3 linked regions of the Homo sapiens genome follow. The protein of the gene in region 1 purifies or fractionates together with the protein of each later gene. This does not show direct contact. Each region holds a gene or a part of one and is shown in the gene's direction. Other genes may lie near its edges.

The links.
Region 2: the proteins of GRWD1 (region 1) and NOC2L purify together in Homo sapiens (affinity purification with mass spectrometry; 2 studies listed by BioGRID, with this or other methods). This does not show direct contact.
Region 3: the proteins of GRWD1 (region 1) and DDX18 purify together in Homo sapiens (affinity purification with mass spectrometry; 2 studies listed by BioGRID, with this or other methods). This does not show direct contact.

Annotation. Positions count from the first base shown.
Region 1 is NC_000019.10:48,442,148-48,449,436, forward strand, and holds the start of GRWD1 (glutamate-rich WD repeat-containing protein 1), read left to right. Parts: upstream 1-3,835; 5' UTR 3,836-3,858; coding exon 3,859-4,045; intron 4,046-4,237; coding exon 4,238-4,355; intron 4,356-4,533; coding exon 4,534-4,696; intron 4,697-7,289. Other genes in the region: GRIN2D (glutamate receptor ionotropic, NMDA 2D precursor), read left to right, coding at 3-235, 453-1,790. UniProt on the Homo sapiens protein: Histone binding-protein that regulates chromatin dynamics and minichromosome maintenance (MCM) loading at replication origins, possibly by promoting chromatin openness.
Region 2 is NC_000001.11:948,850-956,303, reverse strand, and holds part of NOC2L (nucleolar complex protein 2 homolog), read left to right. Parts: intron 1-88; coding exon 89-209; intron 210-290; coding exon 291-381; intron 382-2,221; coding exon 2,222-2,300; intron 2,301-2,411; coding exon 2,412-2,522; intron 2,523-3,015; coding exon 3,016-3,129; intron 3,130-3,703; coding exon 3,704-3,892; intron 3,893-4,164; coding exon 4,165-4,304; intron 4,305-5,065; coding exon 5,066-5,177; intron 5,178-7,454.
Region 3 is NC_000002.12:117,817,644-117,825,097, forward strand, and holds part of DDX18 (ATP-dependent RNA helicase DDX18), read left to right. Parts: coding exon 1-85; intron 86-2,005; coding exon 2,006-2,149; intron 2,150-3,517; coding exon 3,518-3,653; intron 3,654-4,006; coding exon 4,007-4,107; intron 4,108-4,218; coding exon 4,219-4,418; intron 4,419-4,503; coding exon 4,504-4,618; intron 4,619-6,925; coding exon 6,926-7,065; intron 7,066-7,296; coding exon 7,297-7,454. UniProt on the Homo sapiens protein: ATP-dependent RNA helicase that plays a role in the regulation of R-loop homeostasis in both endogenous R-loop-prone regions and at sites of DNA damage.

The DNA of each region.
Region 1 (7,289 bases):
AGATGAGATCGAGATGCTGGAGCGGCTGTGGCTCTCTGGGATCTGCCACAATGACAAAATCGAGGTGATGAGCAGCAAGCTGGACATCGACAACATGGCGGGCGTCTTCTACATGCTCCTGGTGGCCATGGGCCTGTCCCTGCTGGTCTTCGCCTGGGAGCACCTGGTGTACTGGCGCCTGCGGCACTGCCTGGGGCCCACCCACCGCATGGACTTCCTGCTGGCCTTCTCCAGGGTATGGGGCAGAGAGGGAGGCAGAGAGGGGGAGATGGCAGGGGCGGGGACAAAGGTAAAGCCGAGCAGAGACAAGGAGATGTGGGTCGAGATGTGGATAGTGGGGAAGAGAGCGGGAAACACAGGCGGGTAAATGGAGAGGAGAGAGGGACTGAGGGGAGGCGGGCAGGCGTCCTGGGCATCTCGCGCTGACCCCCGTCCTGTCCCCGGACCCGCAGGGCATGTACAGCTGCTGCAGCGCTGAGGCCGCCCCACCGCCCGCCAAGCCCCCGCCGCCGCCACAGCCCCTGCCCAGCCCCGCGTACCCCGCGCCGCGGCCGGCTCCCGGGCCCGCACCTTTCGTGCCCCGCGAGCGCGCCTCAGTGGACCGCTGGCGCCGGACCAAGGGCGCGGGGCCGCCGGGGGGCGCGGGCCTGGCCGACGGCTTCCACCGCTACTACGGCCCCATCGAGCCGCAGGGCCTAGGCCTCGGCCTGGGCGAAGCGCGCGCGGCACCGCGGGGCGCAGCCGGGCGCCCGCTGTCCCCGCCGGCCGCTCAGCCCCCGCAGAAGCCGCCGCCCTCCTATTTCGCCATCGTACGCGACAAGGAGCCAGCCGAGCCCCCCGCCGGCGCCTTCCCCGGCTTCCCGTCGCCGCCCGCGCCCCCCGCCGCCGCGGCCACCGCCGTCGGGCCGCCACTCTGCCGCTTGGCCTTCGAGGACGAGAGCCCGCCGGCGCCCGCGCGGTGGCCGCGCTCGGACCCCGAGAGCCAACCCCTGCTGGGGCCAGGCGCGGGCGGCGCGGGGGGCACGGGGGGCGCAGGCGGAGGAGCCCCGGCCGCTCCGCCCCCGTGCCGCGCCGCGCCGCCCCCGTGCCCTTACCTCGATCTCGAGCCGTCGCCGTCGGACTCGGAGGACTCGGAGAGCCTGGGCGGCGCGTCGCTGGGCGGCCTGGAGCCCTGGTGGTTCGCCGACTTCCCTTACCCGTATGCCGAGCGCCTCGGGCCGCCGCCCGGCCGCTACTGGTCGGTCGACAAGCTCGGGGGCTGGCGCGCCGGGAGCTGGGACTACCTGCCCCCGCGCAGCGGTCCGGCCGCCTGGCACTGTCGGCACTGCGCCAGCCTGGAGCTGCTGCCGCCGCCGCGCCATCTCAGCTGCTCGCACGATGGCCTGGACGGCGGCTGGTGGGCGCCACCGCCTCCACCCTGGGCCGCCGGGCCCCTGCCCCGACGCCGGGCCCGCTGCGGGTGCCCGCGGTCGCACCCGCACCGCCCGCGGGCCTCGCACCGCACGCCCGCCGCCGCCGCGCCCCACCACCACAGGCACCGGCGCGCCGCTGGGGGCTGGGACCTCCCGCCGCCCGCGCCCACCTCGCGCTCGCTCGAGGACCTCAGCTCGTGCCCTCGCGCCGCCCCTGCGCGCAGGCTTACCGGGCCCTCCCGCCACGCTCGCAGGTGTCCGCACGCCGCGCACTGGGGGCCGCCGCTGCCCACAGCTTCCCACCGGAGACACCGGGGCGGGGACCTGGGCACCCGCAGGGGCTCGGCGCACTTCTCTAGCCTCGAGTCCGAGGTATGACGCGGCCCCGGGGGCCCCACCGCCCCCTTGGTCAGCGCAGGCCACGGCCCGAGGGGGCGCCCGCAGTGGACAGGACCCGCGTGGGTTGGGAAGGAAAGCAGTGGAACTGGCCGGACCCCGCCTGGAGCAGCGTCCTGCGCCCCCTGGTTCTGGAGGAACCGCAAGCCGGAGAGGATTTGGTCCCTCAACTATCACCCAGCCTGAGAACGAGGGGGCGGGGGCCTTGGAGCCCACCGGACTTTTTTTTAAACCCGACAAGGGCTTTTTAACGTCACCAGATGGGGCGGGAGGTGGGGGGTTCACGCCACTCCCGCGTCCCACCTCCACGCCCGGGGCCGTGGCCCCCACATCACTGTGCAGCTCCCCGGCCCCAGCCGCGCCTCCGGGGAAGCCCGTTTTTAACCTTTCATCCATTGGGACTCAAAACTGTGAGACGCGTTCGCCAAACTGTGACCCCAGACCTTGGCCCCGCCACACAGAAACCCCTGACCCAGACTGTGACATCCGACTCCTAAAATGGTCATCCGACTCCAGACTGTGACCCCTGACCCCAAACTGTGACCCGAACCCCAGACTGTGCCCCGACCAGACTGTGACCCTTGACATCAAACCGTGACACCCCCTCCTCCTCTTCCACCCTCGGTCGCTTTTCCCTACTCTGACCTAGGACACGTCCCCAACGGAAGCCCCGCCTTCCCTTGCACCGCGATGAACCCAACCTCCCTGAAGCCAAAACTTCCCACCCTGCCGCACCTCCGGACCACCCCACTTGCCACCAAGCACATCCTCTCCAAATCCAACCCTTATTTGCGACCCTTCAGTGATGACCCAGCAGACCTCCAAAAAGCCTCCTCTGCCCAGATCTCCAGCCGGGTCTGGGGCTGGGTTGCGGAGGGGAGGGTCTGGGAGTCCACACTTCTCCACCAACTTCCCTTCCCACTCTCTTATTCCACATTGCAGTGTTTGGAATAAACCATGTTTTTATGCCTCCTCAGTCCAAGCCTAAGCTCCGTATCTGTTAGCCCCCCTCAAATTCTCTGGAGGAAACAGAAACACAAAAGTCCCACAGGGGAAGAGGAGACAGAATTAGAGAGAGAACAGAGACTCTGAAAGGAGGTGCCTGGGGAGACAAAGACCAAGAAAGAGGAGGTGGGAAGAGACCCTGAAAAGAAAGTCGAGAGGGTACTGGGGCAGATAAGAGACCCCAAGAGAGTGGTGAGATAGATCCCGGAGACAAAACATATTAAGATCAAAGGTATGGTTTTATTTCCTATGGCTATAGGTACCAAGGCTTGCTACATTCTCAATATCCTGTTCATGCAAGCTAGGAGAGTGTCTGACATATCCCAGCCAATCCGCATTATCTTGAATGCTGTTAATCTCACCAATGAGAATCTATTTCTAACATTTCATTATGTCAATTAGCCAAACCGCTGGTGCTGATGGGCGATAAAGAGAGACGAAGCACTTGTAATAGCTGCCTCCAGAGGGTGGACTTTCTGATTAAGTGCTCGCTGACCAGAGCTGAAATGTGAATGTCTGGTTAGGCAATTGACTGCCCCTAGAGGGTAGATTGAACCGCCTAACTTACAGATAATATCCATCCTGTCTACAAGAAAGCATTTTTGAAACAAATGAAAGCCATCACAACAGAGAGAGGAAAAGAAACCGGCCTTATGGGTCCTCGGGGAGTAGAAACTCAGTCTCCTTGCCAGTGAAAGAGCAAATTTGCATATATGAATAATTAATTAACTGGAAAGAACGCTCTCGGAATCAAACTGGACAATGGGGAAAACAAGCCTCCCGTAGAACTACAACTCCCAGAAGGCCTTGCCACTACCGCGAGGAACAGCGCCCAAAGTCACGCGAAGATGCAGTTTCTCCGTATCCGCAGGCTTCTTTCGCTGGCGCCATTACCTGAGTTCTCCTCCAGCGTTTCCGCACCCTCTCCGATTAGCGGTCCCAGGAGTTTCCAAGGTAACCGCGCAGTAGGGCGGATCTCATTAGGCGGAAAGCGAAACCCGGAAGTGACGCTCTTACCGGGTGTCAGCAGCGAGAGGGTTCGAAGATGGCGGCGCGCAAGGGTCGGCGGCGCACGTGTGAAACCGGGGAACCCATGGAAGCCGAGTCCGGCGACACAAGTTCCGAGGGCCCGGCCCAGGTCTACCTGCCCGGCCGGGGGCCGCCGCTACGCGAAGGGGAGGAGCTGGTCATGGACGAGGAGGCCTATGTGCTCTACCACCGAGCGCAGACTGGTAGGGCTGAGTCCGGACTCCAGGGTCCTGAGGTGGCTGATCCCGAGCCTTTAACCTGAGAGGTGCTCGGGAAGAGAAGGCTGGGGTCTAAGAGAAGTGATTTCATACCGGAGGCGGTTGATCCATGAGGGAGGTGGGGACTGAGCTCTTACTGTCCCGTCTTAACTCGTAAACCCCGCCTTCCATCCCCAGGCGCCCCCTGTCTCAGCTTTGACATAGTCCGGGATCACCTGGGAGACAACCGGACAGAGCTTCCTCTTACACTTTACTTGTGTGCTGGGACCCAGGCTGAGAGCGCCCAGAGCAACAGGTAAGACCCGAGGCTTTTCCAGGACCAGGAGGCTCAGTTTCCAGCCCCTTCCTCAGCACCCAGGAGTTAGGGCTTCCAGTTTCTGCCTCTCGCAGATCCAGGAGTCTGGGTTTCCAGCCTCTCTCCTTCCTAAGAATCCTGGAATCTAGTGCCTAACTCACCCCACAATTTCTCCCAGACTGATGATGCTTCGGATGCACAATCTGCATGGGACAAAGCCCCCACCCTCAGAGGGCAGTGATGAAGAAGAAGAGGAGGAAGATGAAGAGGATGAAGAAGAGCGGAAACCTCAGCTGGAGCTGGCCATGGTGCCCCACTATGGTGGCATCAACCGAGTTCGGGTAAGTATGGTCCCAGGAGCCTGCTCTGCATACTCTGAAACACATCTGACCCATCCCCTGTGTCCATAACTCCCAACACCTCCTCATGTTCTTTTTTTTTTTTTTTTTTTTGAGACGTAGTCTCGCTCTGTCACCCAGGCTGGAGTGCAGTGGCGCAGCCTCGGCTCACTGCAACCTCTGCCTCCCAAAGTGCTGGGATTACAAGCGTGAGCCACCGTGCCTGGCCCATTTTTTTTTTTTTTTTTTTTGAGATGGAGTCTCGCTCTGTTGTCCAGGCTGGAGTGCAGTGGTGCGATCTTGGCTCACTGCAACCTCCCCTTCCCAGGTTCAAGGGATTCTCCTGCCTCAGCCTCCCAAGTAGCTGGGGCTATAGGCGCCTGCCACCAGGCCCTTCTAATTTTTTGTTTTTTGGTTTTTTTTTGAGATGAAGTCTTGCTCTGTCGCTTAGACTGGAGGGCAATGGCATGATCTCAGCTCACTGCAACCTCTGCCTCCCAGGTTCAAGCGATTCTCCTGCCTCAGCCAAGTAGCTGAGATTACAGGTGCGCGCCACCACGCCCGGCTAATTTTTGTATTCTTAGTAGGGACGGGGTTTCACAATGTTGATCAGGCTGGTGGTGAACTCCTGACCTCGTGATCCGCCTGCCTCGGCTTCCCAAAGTGCTGAGATTACAGGCGTGAGCCACCGCATCTGGCCAATTTTTTGTATTTTTAGTAGAGACAAGGTTTCGCCTTGTTGGCTAGGCTGGTCTCAAACTCCTGACCTCGAGTGATTGATCCGCACGCCTCGGGCACCCAAAGTCATGGGATTACAAGCGTGAGCCACCACACCCGGCCTCCTTCAGTTTTTAGAAAAGTACTTGTCACATAGTTTTATACAATTTAGCTATTATGATCAGTGTCATTACATGTTAGGTACTGTTTTAGATTATGAGGATATGGTTTATGTTCTTCACTTTTCTCTTTGGTAACATAGTGAGTTATAGAACTTATCTGATGGGGCTGGCATGAGGTCAAATGAAATAACATATAGTGCCTAGAATAGCACCTGGTTGTAATATGAGGTATGTATTTTCTGTTACTATTCAGGAACTGTTTTTGGTTGTGGCTGTTTGTTTTGTTTTTGAGTCATGGTTTCACTCCCATTGCCCAGGCTGGAGTGCAGTGGCGTGATCTTGGCTCACTGCAACCTCTGCCTCCCAGGTTCAAGTGATTCTCCTGCCTCAGCCTCCCGAGTAGCTGGGATCACAAGTGCACACCACCATGCCCAGTAATTTTTGTATTTTTAGTAGAAATGGAGTCTCATTATGTTGGCCAGGCTGGTCTTGAACTCCTGAGCTCAAGTGATCTGCCCACCTTCGCCCCCAAAATGCTGGGATTATAGGCATGAGGCACTGTGTCCAGCCTGTTTATTTGTTTTTTGCTTCAAAGCTAAAACATCTTCTGATCAGGTAGACTTGTAAGTACAATGATACGGTATATGAAGAGCACTTAGAGCAGTACTTGGCTGATAGCTGGGGCTGTCTGTTTCCATGAAATTATTTTTACTATGTTTCAGTACTGTTCTAGATGCAGAGGATTTAGCAGCAAGCAAAAGGTCTCTGGCTCCATCAACTTACACACTAGTGGGGGAAGGGAACGAGATGAAACTAAGTAAATGTGTACCATGTCCAAAGGTGTTAACTATCCTGGAAAAAATCCAATGAAGTAGGGGAAGAGGGTTAGGGTGCTCCAGGAGTGGGGTGCTATTTTTAAACAGTGTGGTTAGGAAAGTATTCTGTCATAAAATGCCATTTGCATAGATACTCACAGGTAGTGGGGCAGTGAACCCTGTAAAAGAATTTGCAGGCAAGGAAAAACACAAGTTCAAAGGCCCTGGGGTGAGCTTGGCATGTTTGAAGAGTTTCAAGTGAAGCGGGAGTGTCCAGTCTGTCTGGAGCAGAATGAACAAAAGGGAGAATGACACAATTTGGGGAGCGGGCACAGAGAAGACATTGTTCAGAGCCTTGTCGGCCACTGTAAGGACTCCAGCTTTTAATTGGGAGACGTTGGAGGGTTTCAGGCAGAGGAAAGACAGGGTCTGACTTCTGTTTTAAAGTGGTCCCTCTGGCTGCTGTCCTTAAATATCAATTGCAGAGAGGTAAGGGTCGGAGGAAAGAATCCTGTGGGGAGACTTACGGTATTCAGGGGAAGGATGACATCAGTAGTAGTGTGACAGCAATAGACATCATGAGAAGGGGGTTGGAAGTGAGCTTTTTTTTTTAGATGAGACAGAGTCTCGCTTTTGTCGCCCAGGCCGGAGCGCAATGGTGCGATCTCGGCTCACTGCAACCTCTGACTCCTGGGTTCAAGCGATTCTCCTGCCTCAGCCTCCTAAGTAGCTGGGATTACAGCCACCCACCAGCACGCCCGACTAATTTTTGCATTTTTAGTAGAGGCGGGGTTTCATCATGTTGGCCAGGGTGGTCTCGCTCCTGACCTCAGGCAGTCTGCCCTCCTCGGCCTCCCAAAGTGCTGGGATTACAGGTGCGAGCCACCGCGCCTGGCCCTGGAAGTGAGCATTTTTACTGTAGTCAGCATAGGTGCTGGGCAT
Region 2 (7,454 bases), on another chromosome or scaffold:
GAGGGTGCCTTTCTCTGGGGCTGCCGTTTCCACTCTGCCAAGTGCAGTCTCAGCTCCCCTGACGCCCCTGGTACTCTTGCTCCTTCAGCAACGCCTCACTCCAAAGCTGTTCCATGAAGTGGTACAGGCGTTCCGAGCAGCTGTGGCCACCACCCGAGGGGACCAGGAAAGTGCTGAGGCCAACAAATTCCAGGTCACGGACAGTGCTGGTGAGCTTGGGGGGAGCCTGGCATCCAGGCTGTCTGTTGCGTTCTCTGTCCCGTGAGTACATCCAGGCCTTTTCGTTGCAGCATTCAATGCTCTGGTTACCTTCTGCATCAGAGACCTCATTGGCTGTCTCCAGAAGCTGCTGTTTGGAAAGGTGGCAAAGGATAGCAGCAGGTAAGAGGGGAGGGGGTGAAGGGGGGTAGGGTGGAAGGTGGGTCGGGACCACACACAGGAGAAGCCAGAGGCCTTGTGGCTAGGACAGAGACATGGCAACAGAGCCAGCGTCTTCTTGGGGACCCTGAGAAGGCAGCGGGGCACGAGGGACCGTTGGGAGAGGCTGGGCACTTGGGGCCAGTTGGAGCGGCCCCACCTTCTTTCCTTCCTGAAAAGGGAAGTTGTCTGCTCAGAGTCTCAGAAGGTGTGGCGTGTGCAGCTGCCTTTGCTCTCAGATTTTCCCAGGTTAGGGTTCTTGCTCTATTTCCCTTTGTAAGAACTTGTAAGTCCTGTCCATACTCCTTGATCTCTGCACTATGACTGGCCTGTTTCCTGGAGCTGTGTGTGTCTGTAGACAGGGGCCTCATCAATGCTGAGAACCTGAGGGCCTCAACTTCCCCTTTAGAGAAAGATTGGGCAGAGAAGGCCGTGGAAGGTTTTCAGAGAAGAGAGACGCACGGCCAAGCATTTGGTAGAGCATGGAGCACGTTGGGGTTCCGGGGCTGTGCAGCCATGTGACCTTGAGGCAGTGGAGGCCTAGAGTTGGAACTGCCCCAGGACACCTTCAAAGGAAGAAAGGAGACCCACAGGAGAGGTCTCGCCGACAGCGGCTCAGGAGACAGGGGCACTGTTGCTGGTGGTAGTGGTCGGGGCTGGACGGATAGAACAGAGCCATGTCCACATGGAGGCAGTGCTGTCCGAAGGGGACAAGGAAGCTGGCAGATGGGGGTGGAGGGACAGGCAGCGATTGGGAGGCAGCACGCACTGCAGCCTGAGCCACCAGGTCAGGGACCCCTGTCGAGGCAGCAGCTGTACCGGAGGGAGTCAGGCCGTGGGGAGCAGAGCTGCCTCCTGGGTCTGGGTGGGCAGCTGCAGGTGCCCAGCAGCCAGTGTCAGCACAGGTGTGAGGAGGGTCGAGGACGGGGGGCCTTTCTGGGGCCCTGCCCTTTGTCCTTCCCATGCTTCAGCAGATTTTAGTGAGCGCCTACTGCGTGGGCTCTGGTAAATGTTTTGTTTTGTTTTGTTTTGTTTGTTTGGTTTTTGGTTTTTTTTTTTCCTTACGAGATAGGATCTTGCTCTGTCGCCCAGGCTGGAATGCAGTGATCATAGCTCACTGCGACACGTACCTTCTGGATTCAAGTGATTCTCTCACCTTAGCCTCCCAAGTAACTGGGACTCCGCCACCAGGCCTGGATAATATTTTGTATATTTTTGTAGAGACGGGGTCTCACTGTGTTGTTCAGGCTGGTCTCAAACTCCTGGGCTTGGAGTTTGATCCTCCTGCCTTGGCCTCCCAAAGTGCAGTGAGTACTGGCATGAGTCTCCACACCTGCCCTCTGATTTTCTTTTCTTTGTGCAGCAAATGTGGGCCAAAGGAAACCAGTCTGCGGCAGTTGGTGGTGCCTGGGCGACCCCAGAGGTGCTGAGTACCAGCTGCTGGGCTTAGGGACCTCGTGTGGTCTCACGGTGGGGATGTGATCAAGGGGACCTAGAAAAGGTTTATGTCTGAGAGGGAGTTGGAGGCTGGGACTTCCGGGGACTCTTAGGGCGGTGGCCAACCCTGGGCAGGGCAGACAGGAGTTCAAGGCCACTGAAGGAGGAGCTAATGCACTTGAGAGGGTCCTCCTAAGCCCCTGTGTCTGTCCAGCTGTAAGGGGCCCTGAGCTTTTTTGAGTGGAGAGACGGGGGGTCTCTGCAGAGTCGTAGAGGCTATGCTGGCCAGGGCACGCGCCAACATGCTGAGCAGCCTCGCGTCCGAGCCGTGGGGCCTCCCAGCCAGGGGTGGGTGGTCTCTCTGCAGGATGCTGCAGCCGTCCAGCAGCCCGCTCTGGGGGAAGCTTCGTGTGGACATCAAGGCTTACCTGGGCTCGGCCATACAGGTGCTATTCTGGTGGGGAGGGCACGGGGGCCTGGCTGTATCTGGTGGTCGGTCCTTTTTTGTATCCCAGAATACATGGGTTTGGGGCTTCACTGTCCCCTCCTGCCCCCAGCTGGTGTCCTGTCTGTCGGAGACGACGGTGTTGGCGGCCGTGCTGCGGCACATCAGCGTGCTGGTGCCCTGCTTCCTGACCTTCCCCAAGCAGTGCCGCATGCTGCTCAAGGTTCGTGGCCCAGTCCCCTCCCTGTGTCTGTCATGGGGTCGGGGGGCCACACGGCTACCCCCACCACATCCCACTCCTGGCCAGGGCACAGGTGGTGCCCACACTCCACTGGCTCCGCTTGGCTAGAGAGGCCACAGAAGCACCTGGCCCCCACCCCCACCTGGGGTTTCTGTCTCAGGCAGTCCCTGCCTGCCCGGGCAGCGCGGCTCAGTCCGTGAGCAAAGCCACGGTGAGGTATCTTCTTCCCGGTGTGATCTCACATACGTCGGCGTGTCTGACGTGGTAAACTTTTGTGGTCCTCTTCTCACAAGGAGCAACACACCTGTTCTGTTCACTTCTGTAACTGAGCACCTAACTCACGGCTCCCCCGAGGTGCTTTGGGAAGAGCTGGTGGCCATGGGAGCCTTTGCCTGGCTGGGGAGGGCTGTGCTGGCCCTGGGGCATCCCTGCTGAGGAGGCTGGGGGGCCACCAGTGACGTCTGACCTTCTGCAGAGAATGGTGATCGTATGGAGCACTGGGGAAGAGTCTCTGCGGGTGCTGGCTTTCCTGGTCCTCAGCAGAGTCTGCCGGCACAAGAAGGACACTTTCCTTGGCCCCGTCCTCAAGGTAGTGGTGGGCCCTGCGTCTGTGTCCCTCAGCATCTGCATTGGAAATCTCGGCCTAAGGGCAGGGCGGGCTGCCTTTGTGGTTGGTGCCCCTCACTGGACCCTCACTGCAGCTCTGAGCAGACCTGGGCCCTTGGATCACGAATGTCTCACAGAGCACCTGGGGGTGGTGGGCAGGGAAGAGAGCCCTCGGCCTTCTCAGGGCCCCACCTGGACCCTGCTTCACACAGCTTCCCCAGGGGAGGGCCTCTCTGGCTGGAGGAGGACACTGGGTGTTGGGACCTGAGGCCATGGCCAGGGTACAGTCCTACTGCCCGTCCCCAAGCCATGGGTGGCCTGCATGTGGGGACCCTCAGCCCCCAGAGGGGCCCAGTGTGCAGCAGGAGCTTCTGCCCCAGCTTCTCCCAGGCCTGAGGCTGGTGGGCACTTGGGGGTGGGGGCTGTGCAAGGGGCTACGGCTCTTCCTCGAGGCCCAGCTCTGAGGGAAAGGCCCAGGTGTTCACAGGGGCCCTGGAGTGGGCGGTGGAGGTGCATGGCCCTGATCCCAGGTGGCTCTGACCCGGGTCTCTCCGCAGCAAATGTACATCACGTATGTGAGGAACTGCAAGTTCACCTCGCCTGGTGCCCTCCCCTTCATCAGTTTCATGCAGTGGACCTTGACGGAGCTGCTGGCCCTGGAGCCGGGTGTGGCCTACCAGCACGCCTTCCTCTACATCCGCCAGCTCGCCATACACCTGCGCAACGCCATGACCACTCGCAAGAAGGTGTGTGGTGGGGCCCTTCCAGGCTCATGCTGGGCATGGGGTGGGGCAGCCCAGGTGCCCGACCCAAGGCAGGGCCTGGGGCCTCCCCGAAGCCCCTGTCTGGAGACAGCCCAGCACCCTGGTGCAGTCGGTCCTTGCAGGTGGGGGAAGGGTGGATGGGTTGAGACCCCGTGTGCAAGATGAGGAAATGATTCCTGTGCCGGCCCAGGAGGAACGTGCATCAGCCTGACTTGTCAGCCTGGCCAGTAGCTGACGTGGTTCTCTCTGACCAGGAAACATACCAGTCTGTGTACAACTGGCAGTATGTGCACTGCCTCTTCCTGTGGTGCCGGGTCCTGAGCACTGCGGGCCCCAGCGAAGCCCTCCAGCCCTTGGTCTACCCCCTTGCCCAAGTCATCATTGGCTGTATCAAGTGAGTTGTGGGGTGGGCAGGGTTGTGCGGGAGGGTCAGGAGAAGCAAATTTGCTGGGACTGTGTGGGCGGTGCCTCTGGCGTTCAGGGCCTTGGGGCCTGAGTCTGTGTCCTGGCCGTCCCTGAGGAAGGGCTGGGGTCCCTGTACCTGCTACGGGGAGATGCTCTGGATTCTGGAGAGCTAGGGCTGGTGGGCACCTGTGACATGAGCTCCTCCAACAGCGGTTTAGCCGCCTCGGGTGCCACCCAGCGTGTGTTCTGGGGGCTTGTGTGCAGTTTGCAGTGAGTTTGGTTCATTACGTGGGGTTCTTGGGTGGAGCACATCTGATGCAGTGAACTGCATTTTGGGTGTGAGCGCTTAGGAGGGTCCAGGCACGGTAGGGGCTGCAGCAGGAAAAGGTGGGAGCAGTACTGTGGCCTCTTTGGCCAGGAGGGGGCATCTGTCTGGCTGAGCCTTAGAAACTCAAGGCTGGGAAGGGAGGTGGGAAGTCCAAGGGAAGAAGTAGGAAAGGCGGGAACAGGGAGGAGAGCAGGCAGGAACAGATGACCCCTGCCACCGTGTTGAAATAAAGCTGAAAGCTGGGTAAGGTACCTGCAGCCCCATAGCTGGGCAAGGGGTGCAGGTCCCTGGGGTTCAGACGTGCCTTGTCCTGCTTTAGGGGTCTGATGTCGGTGAGTGGGGGAGGAGGTCCAAGACAGCAGGGGGAGGGGCAGGGGCTGCCAGAGCCGGGGCCTCTGCTCACTCGGCCTTCCCACCCCCAGGCTCATCCCCACTGCCCGCTTCTACCCGCTGCGAATGCACTGCATCCGTGCCCTGACGCTGCTCTCGGGGAGCTCGGGGGCCTTCATCCCGGTGCTGCCTTTCATCCTGGAGGTGAGTGAGGCTGTGGTGGGCGTGTGGCACCTCTGCCTGCTCCTGTAGGGAGCATCTGCTGCTCCGGGCGTCTGTGCTGAGTTGTCCGGCGACTTCCCGGAGCCCTGGCCGCCTCCTTGTCACGGGTGTCACGAGGACAGTGCTCCTCCGTGTGCTGGGGGCAGTGTTGGGGAACGTGGGACCACTGGGGATGAAGGCGGCTGCTGCTAGGGCTGTGCTTGAGGATGCCGGGACCTGACCCTGTAGGTGCTTGCCCAAGACTGGAGTAGGCAGGAGGCGAGATGGGCCAAAACCCAAGTCTGATTGCTGAACTGTACACTGAACAGTGCCCTGCCCTGACAGTTGTGTGCATGTGTATGCATTTGTATGGGGGATGTGTGTACATCTGGGTGGGTGCGTTTGTCTGTGCATGCATGCGTGTGTGTGCACCATCTGGGTGCATGGGTCTGTAAATCTGTGTGTGTGTGCATATCAGTTCATGTGTGCATCTGTATGTGTGTATGCACGTGTATCCATGAATGCCTGTGTGCCTGCAGGTGTGTGCATCTGTGCGTGTGTACACCTGTGTGTATGCATGTGTGTACCTTTGCGTGTACCTTTGCGTGTGTGCACCTGTGCATGTGTCTTTGTATACCAGTGTGTACCTGTGTGTACCTGTATGCATGCACATGCGTGTGTACCTGTGTGCACCTGTCTGCATGTGTGTACCTGTGCGTGTGTGCACCTGTGTGCATGCATTTGCGTCTGCATGTGTCTACCTGTGCATGCATGAACCTTTGCATGTGTGCATCTGTGTGCATGCATGTGTGTCTGCGTGCATCTATGTACCTGTGTGCACCTATGTGCATACACACGTGTCTGTGTGCACTTGTGTGCATGCATTTGCATCTGCATGTGTGTACTGTGCGTGTGTACCTGTGCGTGTACCTGTACACTTGGGTGCATGCATGCACGTCTGCTTGTGTGTGCCTGTGCGTGTGTGCACCTGTGTGCATGTACGTGCGTCTACGTGTGTGCCTGTGCATGTGTGCGCCTGTGTGTACCTGTGTGTATGCATCTTTGCACGTGCACATGCCACTCAGGTAGGGAAAGATTGGAGTCCGAAGTTTCAACTTTCAGTGGGTGGGTTAGGCCCCACCCCGCTGTAAATTTAGGAATTCACGATCTCCACCCTGTTTATCTAATGAGTTCTCAGCCTCATGAAGGCCCAGAGTCGTGTCACAGCTGTCCTTGGGGCTGGGTCCCCAGGTTGCTGGGTCCAGAAGGTATGGAAGCCCCAGGCACGTTCTGATTCCCCTTCCACTGAGGCAGGGATGCTGAACATCTTTAGGAAGCCATGTTCACTCCCATGGCAGCCAGCAGTGGTCTCTGATTGCCCAGCCCTTGGCCTGGCCCCTGTGTCTGTGGGCCTCCAGCTCTGCTGCCCAGCTCCAGGCATGCTTTGTGTCTGTTTCCCTTGTCCAATCTCCTTGGCTACGTGCTTTCTTACTCTCTTGCAGTGTCTGTTTCTTCACTTGTGCACTGCCCTGGTTCACTGCAGCCGCACCCTGTAGGCCCCTCTCACGCAGGGATGCAGGCCTCTCCTCTCCGGAAAAAGCAAACCCTAAAAGCTAAAACAAAGCCCTCAGCTGTAGGCCGTGCCTGCCCTTCCCCGGTGCCTGGACAGGAAGCCAGTCGCCTGCCCATACTTTTGGCCCAGGCTAGAGAAGGGCAGTGTCCTCCCAGAGGTTCATCAGTACCAGGGCGTTTTCCCATCTGGACCTGAGCTCAGCTGTCTGGCAGCCACCCCTGCTGAGTGGGGTGTCTTGCTGGGGCCTCCACCCTTGGGCCCCCCATAATCTGCTTCTGTCCTCTGGTGCCCCAGCATGTACCCTGGATCTCTCTGGTTCACAGCCTGAGGGCTCCTAGTGGTTGGGGAGGGGTCACAAGACTGAGAGGCCAGGCTGACTCTTTCTCTGCTCCTCCTGGCATGTCCTACGGAGGTGCATGGCCTGTGGCTTCTGTGGAGGGTGTGGGAGGGGCCCCCCAGGCCTCCCGTGACCTCCATCTGTCCCGTCCTGTGTCTGGCACTCTTTGCTGTTGCTGCTGCGTCTTCTGGTTGCTCGGGACGGAGCCCCATGTGGCATTGCTGTGCTGAGGGCCAGGATGGGCCTCAGTGCCATGTTGTCAGGAATGGGGGCTGTCCTGGTACTCTGTGTGGCAGGGACCTCTAGGTCTCCAGACGTGGGTCCTTAGTGCTTCCCAGGATTTTGGGAGAGGGCCCGTGTTCCTGATCCT
Region 3 (7,454 bases), on another chromosome or scaffold:
GGAGAAGCAGCAATGCAGTCTTCCAATTCAGAATCAAAAAAGAAAAAGAAGAAAAAGAGAAAAATGGTGAATGATGCTGAGCCTGGTAGGTATTTATTATCTTTGAACTTCAGCCATTTAGTTTTTCACAGACGGTTATTGTTCCTCTTTCTATTACTATTGTGTGCACATGACATGAGAATTCCCTGTACTCACCAGTATGTTAGAGATTAGCCTGGTAGCTAATGGAAACATTTTATTGGCAGAAGCGGGGAGTCCATTTCAACTTTTCTCAAAATATTGAGGAATATATTTTTAATTTCACTAACCTTGAAGAAAACCTCTCTCAGAAAAGACTCTCCTTAGAATTCTAGAAATTTTCTCTTCTTTTTAAGTTACCTTTTTTCCTGCTTGATTCTTCCCATTTTCCTTCCATAAATTCCTCCCTTTGAAAGGAATATTAGTTACAAAGTATATAAAGTAGGAAACTTCTGAATAAATGGAACATTAATTTCCAAGTGCTAAGAATGGCAGGAGGAAAAGGAAGGAATGTTTTTTGAAGATGATGGAATTTCAGTAAGCTCGGATGAAAGAATGGACATTATAATTGAGATTTGTATAAGCAGAGATATCAAGGTAGGATAAGATAGGGGTCAGCAAACTATCCCTCCTTCTACCTGTTTTTGTAAATAAAGTTTTACTGGGTCATAGCAATGCCTATTTGGTTGTGTTTATGGCAACAGAGATCATATGACCTGCAAAGCCTAAACTATTTACTATCTGGCCCTTTGCGGAAAGTTTGCCAGCCCCTGAGTTGGAACATCCTATTCATGTATTTTACCTGAAATAAGGGTTTTATTTAGAAAGGGACTTTGAACTTTTCCAAACATGCATTACTGTCTTCATGATGCCTACACACAGAAGTCATTGTAATCCTGTTCTAAAATTATTGCCTTCACAATTCTTGTTTTGAGTATGCCCCAGGAAGTGGTATTATTTCTGCTCCCAAGCATTGAATCACAATGCTGGGCGTTTTAACCTTATGGGTTTTTTGTTTGTTTGTTTGTTTGTTTGTTTTATTATGAGATGGGGTCTCACTGTGTTGTCCAAGCTGGTCTTGAACTCCTGGGCTCAAGTGATCCTCCCACCTCGGCTTCCCAAAGTGCTGGGATTACAGGCAGAAGCCACCACACCCAACCACCTTATGGGTACATTTTAGGAACTATTCCAGGGAAAACAAAATAAGCCATGGAGACCAGCTGAAGATATCTGTGGCTTTTGAACATGTAGGTCCTACAAAGTTGACTCTTTCCTGGAAGGGTGGCCGTCAGGTACAGGGAGGAGACCAGTACTGAGCTACAGAGAGTCCTGGGTTGTGGTCTAAGTTCTTTTCAAACATCACTAATTGCCATATAGTTTTATATAAACACAGCATGTGGTTAATCCATTTGACCCAGAGTCGAACATTGAAAAGAGAAGTGAGAGGTAGGACTGAAAAGGTAGTTGGGGCCACATGAAAGTTGTGAATGTAGAAATGAGGGTGGGAAGAAGCCCTGCCTTTCCTCCCACCCTCATCCCTGATAGCCAAGGCACAGTCCAGTGTATGTCAGCCAGGCAAGTGGGTTGTTGCCCTTCCTTTACAGTCTATCTCTAGTAACATGAAGAGCCTTTGATAGTGATTGGCGTGGGAAGAAAAATGACTACTTATAATGAGTTTTTAAGGATTATGTTAATCAGGTATGCTTCCTTTCCCCTCAGTGGAGTATGTGAAACTTATAATTGGTATGTTTATACTGTTTAGTTGAACAAAAGCCTAAAAGGTTTTGTCACCAAGTCTGTCTGTACCCTGGGTTTTTAAATACAACCACTCATTTTTCACCAAACAGAATTCTTAACAAATTAATACAGCATATACTTAGCTTTTGAAAATATACGTCTTTATATCAGAGATCTTCTGTTTGTTGATCTCATTTGGAATTCTATTTTAAGGAAAAATTTTTTCGGATTTTGTCTTTTAAAACCAAAGATACGAAAAAAGCAAAAACTGAAAACAAAGGGAAATCTGAAGAAGAAAGTGCCGAGACTACTAAAGAAACAGAAAATAATGTGGAGAAGCCAGATAATGATGAAGATGAGAGTGAGGTGCCCAGTCTGCCCCTGGGACTGACAGGTAACGTCCAGGAAGTTTTCTAGAGGTAACTTCTTTAAAATGTGCCTCTCTTAGAGGATTATAGGTTTGAAGGTTCAGTTGTGACTTTCAGTTTACCTGAAAAAAGTAACTATCAACAAGAAACTTTTTTTATATCTTTCTGCTGCTTTTTCTCTTTATCTTCTATTTTGTGGTGTTTTAGTTCTTTTTGTTCCCTGTTTTTTTCCTTTTGTTCATTCCTGACACCAAATATTTTATATGCACACTAGCAGCTTCTAGGATTCCTTGGTTTGTCCTTTTCTGAGTCTCATTCTATGTTGTAATAGGAAAATGATTGGCCCTGTACGAGGTTAACCTCCTTTGGCCTTTGTTCCTTTATAAAGTTGAGTTTAGGCTAGAATTCACTGCTCCTAACCAGATATGTCTAGGAGTTACTTGAGTTGTTTATTTGGTTTGGGTTGGTTGGTTTGTTAAAATGTTGAGGCCCAACCCTAGACCTGCTTAATCCAAATTGCAAACGTTTTGGTAGTAGCTCTCGAGCAGGGAAATTCGCCCCCCGAGTAAGAAGAGTAACTCTTCCTGGTTTGCCCAGAACTTTAACAGTTTTAGCACTGAAAGTTCTGAATCCCAAGAATCTCCTCTGTCCCTAGCCTACTGAGAAGATTGGTCATCCTAAGCCTAGGAGACATTTTTGGTTCTCAGAGCTAGGAGCAGTCTGCTGGGATCTGGTGAGTAGAGGTCAGAAACACTGCATAATATCTTATAAGGCACAGGATAGTGTTTCACAGCAAAGAATTATTCAGCCCAGATGTCAGCAATGCCAAGGTCAAGAGTGATTGGTTTACACCCTGGGCATGTGGAGTATGGGGAACCCCCAGGTGATTTTGATGCCTTCTGCTGAACCACCACTGTATTACTTGATACGTAGGCTCAGCCTAACATTCTGTGGCTGTATCTGACTCTTCTGTGTCTTGTTGGAGTGAGATTAACAGGTTTTTTTTTTATTATTGACTTCACACTCAGTTTTTATTAATGCTCAATGTTTTCACTTTTATATCAGATTTCTTAAACATTTCATTTATCTCTGGACTCTCATTATTTTCCTTGTTTTGGTATTTTTATTTTATATAAATTCCTTGGTTATACCTCCTCTCTACCCCTTGTTTTGTTATAGTATGGTCTCTGGACTATAACTCACACAGCCGTTAACAGTGGAGAAACTTGAAAGATATAGGGTCTTTTTCTTGATATTATCACATATGAATAATTAAGGTTTAGCCTTTTCTTACTGCGGGAAGCTTTTCTAAGCAAAATAGATTTAGGCAACTGTAGCAATACTTTTTTAAAAAAAAAGATAAATTTGCTAATGATAAATTGTCTTCTGTTTAGGAGCTTTTGAGGATACTTCGTTTGCTTCTCTATGTAATCTTGTCAATGAAAACACTCTGAAGGCAATAAAAGAAATGGGTTTTACAAACATGACTGAAATTCAGCATAAAAGTATCAGACCACTTCTGGAAGGCAGGTATGATTAACATTGAAGCTTAGATATTGGCATCTATTTTTAGAACTAGTAGATGATAAAGAACATACCAGTATATTCTGTTGATTTTGTACTATATGTTGGGTCATGTATCCAGCATACATTAAAGGCTTTAAGTTAATTACTGATGTTTGAAGGAAAGTGTTCGAAAGGTGTTCTGCTTCTGTTGTAGCACAGTTCTGACTTATGATTTCAGTATATAACCCAGGTGATCAATTTCAGCACTGTAGACGTTTCTTGTTCATGTTCTAGCCGTAGTGCCTAAGGTGTGTGTATGTAGTACGTCGTAAATGAGTAGGCTAAATGTCTTTCTCCTTTCCCTTTTTAATATTTAGGGATCTTCTAGCAGCTGCAAAAACAGGCAGTGGTAAAACCCTGGCTTTTCTCATCCCTGCAGTTGAACTCATTGTTAAGTTAAGGTTCATGCCCAGGAATGGTAAGCGTTCATCTGCTTGTTTCTGCCATTATTTCACTAGAGGTTTATTGTAGCTGTTACGGACTCAGTGGTGACAGCCACATTTAGACTTCTACCATATATCATTTTTAGGAACAGGAGTCCTTATTCTCTCACCTACTAGAGAACTAGCCATGCAAACCTTTGGTGTTCTTAAGGAGCTGATGACTCACCACGTGCATACCTATGGCTTGATAATGGGTGGCAGTAACAGATCTGCTGAAGCACAGAAACTTGGTAATGGGATCAACATCATTGTGGCCACACCAGGCCGTCTGCTGGACCATATGCAGGTAAGAGATGTAGTGCTTGTCTCATTGTCTTGTATGAAACATAAACTGACAACTAATGGTTGTTCTTTGTCCTTTGTTTTGTTAGAATACCCCAGGATTTATGTATAAAAACCTGCAGTGTCTGGTTATTGATGAAGCTGATCGTATCTTGGATGTGGGGTTTGAAGAGGAATTAAAGCAAATTATTAAACTTTTGCCAAGTAAGTAGGTAGCATCTGCATTTGGTTTGCAAAGTATCTGTTGGAGGTAGATAAGAGTTGTTCCTATAGAAAAACTGTACTAATGCCAGAACTTTACCATAGCCAAGTGAGGTAGTTGTGCCAATTAACCCGAAAGGTAATTTGGAATACAAGCATCAAATGTATTATAACTTGATATAATAGTTTTGCTGTTTTAGAAGTTATAAGGCACGTTAAGCAGTCTTCACATAGGTCCTGTCCTCCACCTCTTGCCCATTCTTACCTCATCTAACATCCCCCAAGAAGCCGCAGATTTTTTGCCTTACTTGTACATACCTTGGTTATAGTACTTGCAACATTATGAACTGGTTATAACTAAGACCATGGTTTCCTTCATTATATAATTTATTTTTAAAAGCTTTGTCAAAGTATAATTATATCTACCCATTTATAATGTACAATTTGATGTTCTTTGATTTGTTTACCACTGTGACATCATCGCTGCAATCAAGAAAATGAACATGTCCATCACAGTCAAAGGTTTCCTCCTGCCCCTTTTCAATTTCTCCCTCCCACCCCTCCTTACACGTATACCTTGTCCCCAGGTGAGTATTGATCTGTTTTCTGCTGCTAGATTAGGTTGCATTTTCTGGAAATAAAGTTGCTGTGAACAGTCATCTACAACTCTTTGTAGAGGCATATATCTCCTTTTCTCTTAAGTAAACCTAGGAGTGTCCTAGTTGGTATATGTTTAGTGTATGTTTAACTTTTTAAAAAACTGCCAGATGTTTTCCAAAGCGGCTGTACCATTTAACATTCCTATGAGCAGTGTATGAAAGTTCCAGTTCCTCCTATTAAGTCTTGACCATCAGGTAATGTTAGCCCCAAGTTTGTTCTCTTTTAAAGTTGTGGTATTCTTGTCCTTTGCTTTTCTATATAAATTTTAGAATTGGTTTGTCAGTTTCTCCCCCTTCCCTCCAAAAAAGTCTCAGATCTTGACTGAGATTTTATTGAATAGAGATTATTGGAGGAAGACAGTATTGAGTCATGTAACCCATAATAAGGTATATCTCCATGTATTCGATATTTTCTCTATCATATTTAGGGGGGTTCGGGATACAGGTTTATTCACATCTTTTGTCAGATTTATCTCTGAGTGTTTCATTAAAATTTCAAGTTCCAATTGCTCGTTGCTTTAATATATACATATATACACACACACATATACACACATATATATGCACACACAGTTGAATTTTATATTGATCTTGTATCTAGCAAGACAGTTAATCCTGTACCGAATGATTATTCAGTATGACTTTCCAGATGACTGTAGCCTTTTGGATTTTCTATATAGGCAATCATGTGCAGATAAAGACAGTTTCACCTCTTTATTTAATTTTTTTTTCCTGCCTGATTGCCCTGGCCAGAACCTCCAGTATGGTGCTGAATAGAAGTGGTGAGAGCAGACATCCTTATCTTGGTTCTGATCTTAGGGGAAAGCATTCAGTCTTTTACCATTAACTACATATGAAGTTAGCTGCAGGTTTTATATAGATGCCTTTTATCAGATTGAGGAAGATCCCTTCTGTTCCTAGTTTGCTGAGGATTTTTAATCAGAAATAGATGGTCAAATGTTTTTTTTCTGTCTGCTGAAATAATCATGTTTTTTCTTTAGTTAACATAGTGAATTGTATTGGTTGATTTTTCAAATGTTGAACCAACCTGCATTTCTAGAATAAACCTGATCCATTTCTAGAATAAACATGAGCCATTATCCTTTTTATATATTGCTGAATTCACTTTACTAAAATTCTATTTCAAATTTTGTATATGTGCTCACGAATTGTATTGGTCCATAGTTTTCTTGTCATGTCATGTCAGGTTTTTGTATAGTGTAATGACTGACTTCGAAGAATGAGTTGACATGTAAGCCCTCTTTTTAATTTATTGGAGAGTTTGTGAATAATTGATGTTTTTTTCTTAAATGTTCAGTAGAATTCACCAATGGAATCCATTTGGGCCTGGAATTTTCTTTACATGAAGGTTATAACTAAAATTTCTTTAGTAGATATAAGGCTATTTAAAGTTTTCCTATTTTCTTCAGTTGTTTGTCTTCAAAGGAGTTTGTCCATTTCATCTAAGTCCTCAAATTTATAGACCTAGTGTTTCATGATATACCCTTTTTACCTTTTGTAATATTTGTAGATTCTGTAGAAACATCATATCTCCCATTTCTGATATCTCTACCTAGAATATTTGTAGTTGTGAGGCAATTGTAAAGATTCCCTAAAAGATTGGGGTTATTTTTATATGTATCTGTTTCAGCACGTAGACAGACTATGCTCTTTTCTGCCACCCAAACTCGAAAAGTTGAAGACCTGGCAAGGATTTCTCTGAAAAAGGAGCCATTGTATGTTGGCGTTGATGATGATAAAGCGAATGCAACAGTGGATGGTCTTGAACAGGTACTTTTTATCAATAACTGAAAACTGTAGGGATCTTACTTGGTGTTTTTATGTAATTGTTGGAAGGATCATTCAGAAAGCAAATGGGTTAATGAACTTTTAAAATGCTGTAGGTGAGGCATGACAGTTTACACACTGTGTTTATCAGTGCTCTTGATGAAATTACACAAGTTAGGAAATGGAAAATGTCCACTTGGTTCATTTGTATCTGTCTGCTTAAACGCTTTCTAGGGATATGTTGTTTGTCCTTCTGAAAAGAGATTCCTTCTGCTCTTTACATTCCTTAAGAAGAACCGAAAGAAGAAGCTTATGGTCTTCTTTTCATCTTGTATGTCTGTGAAATACCACTATGAGTTGCTGAACTACATTGATTTGCCCGTCTTGGCCAT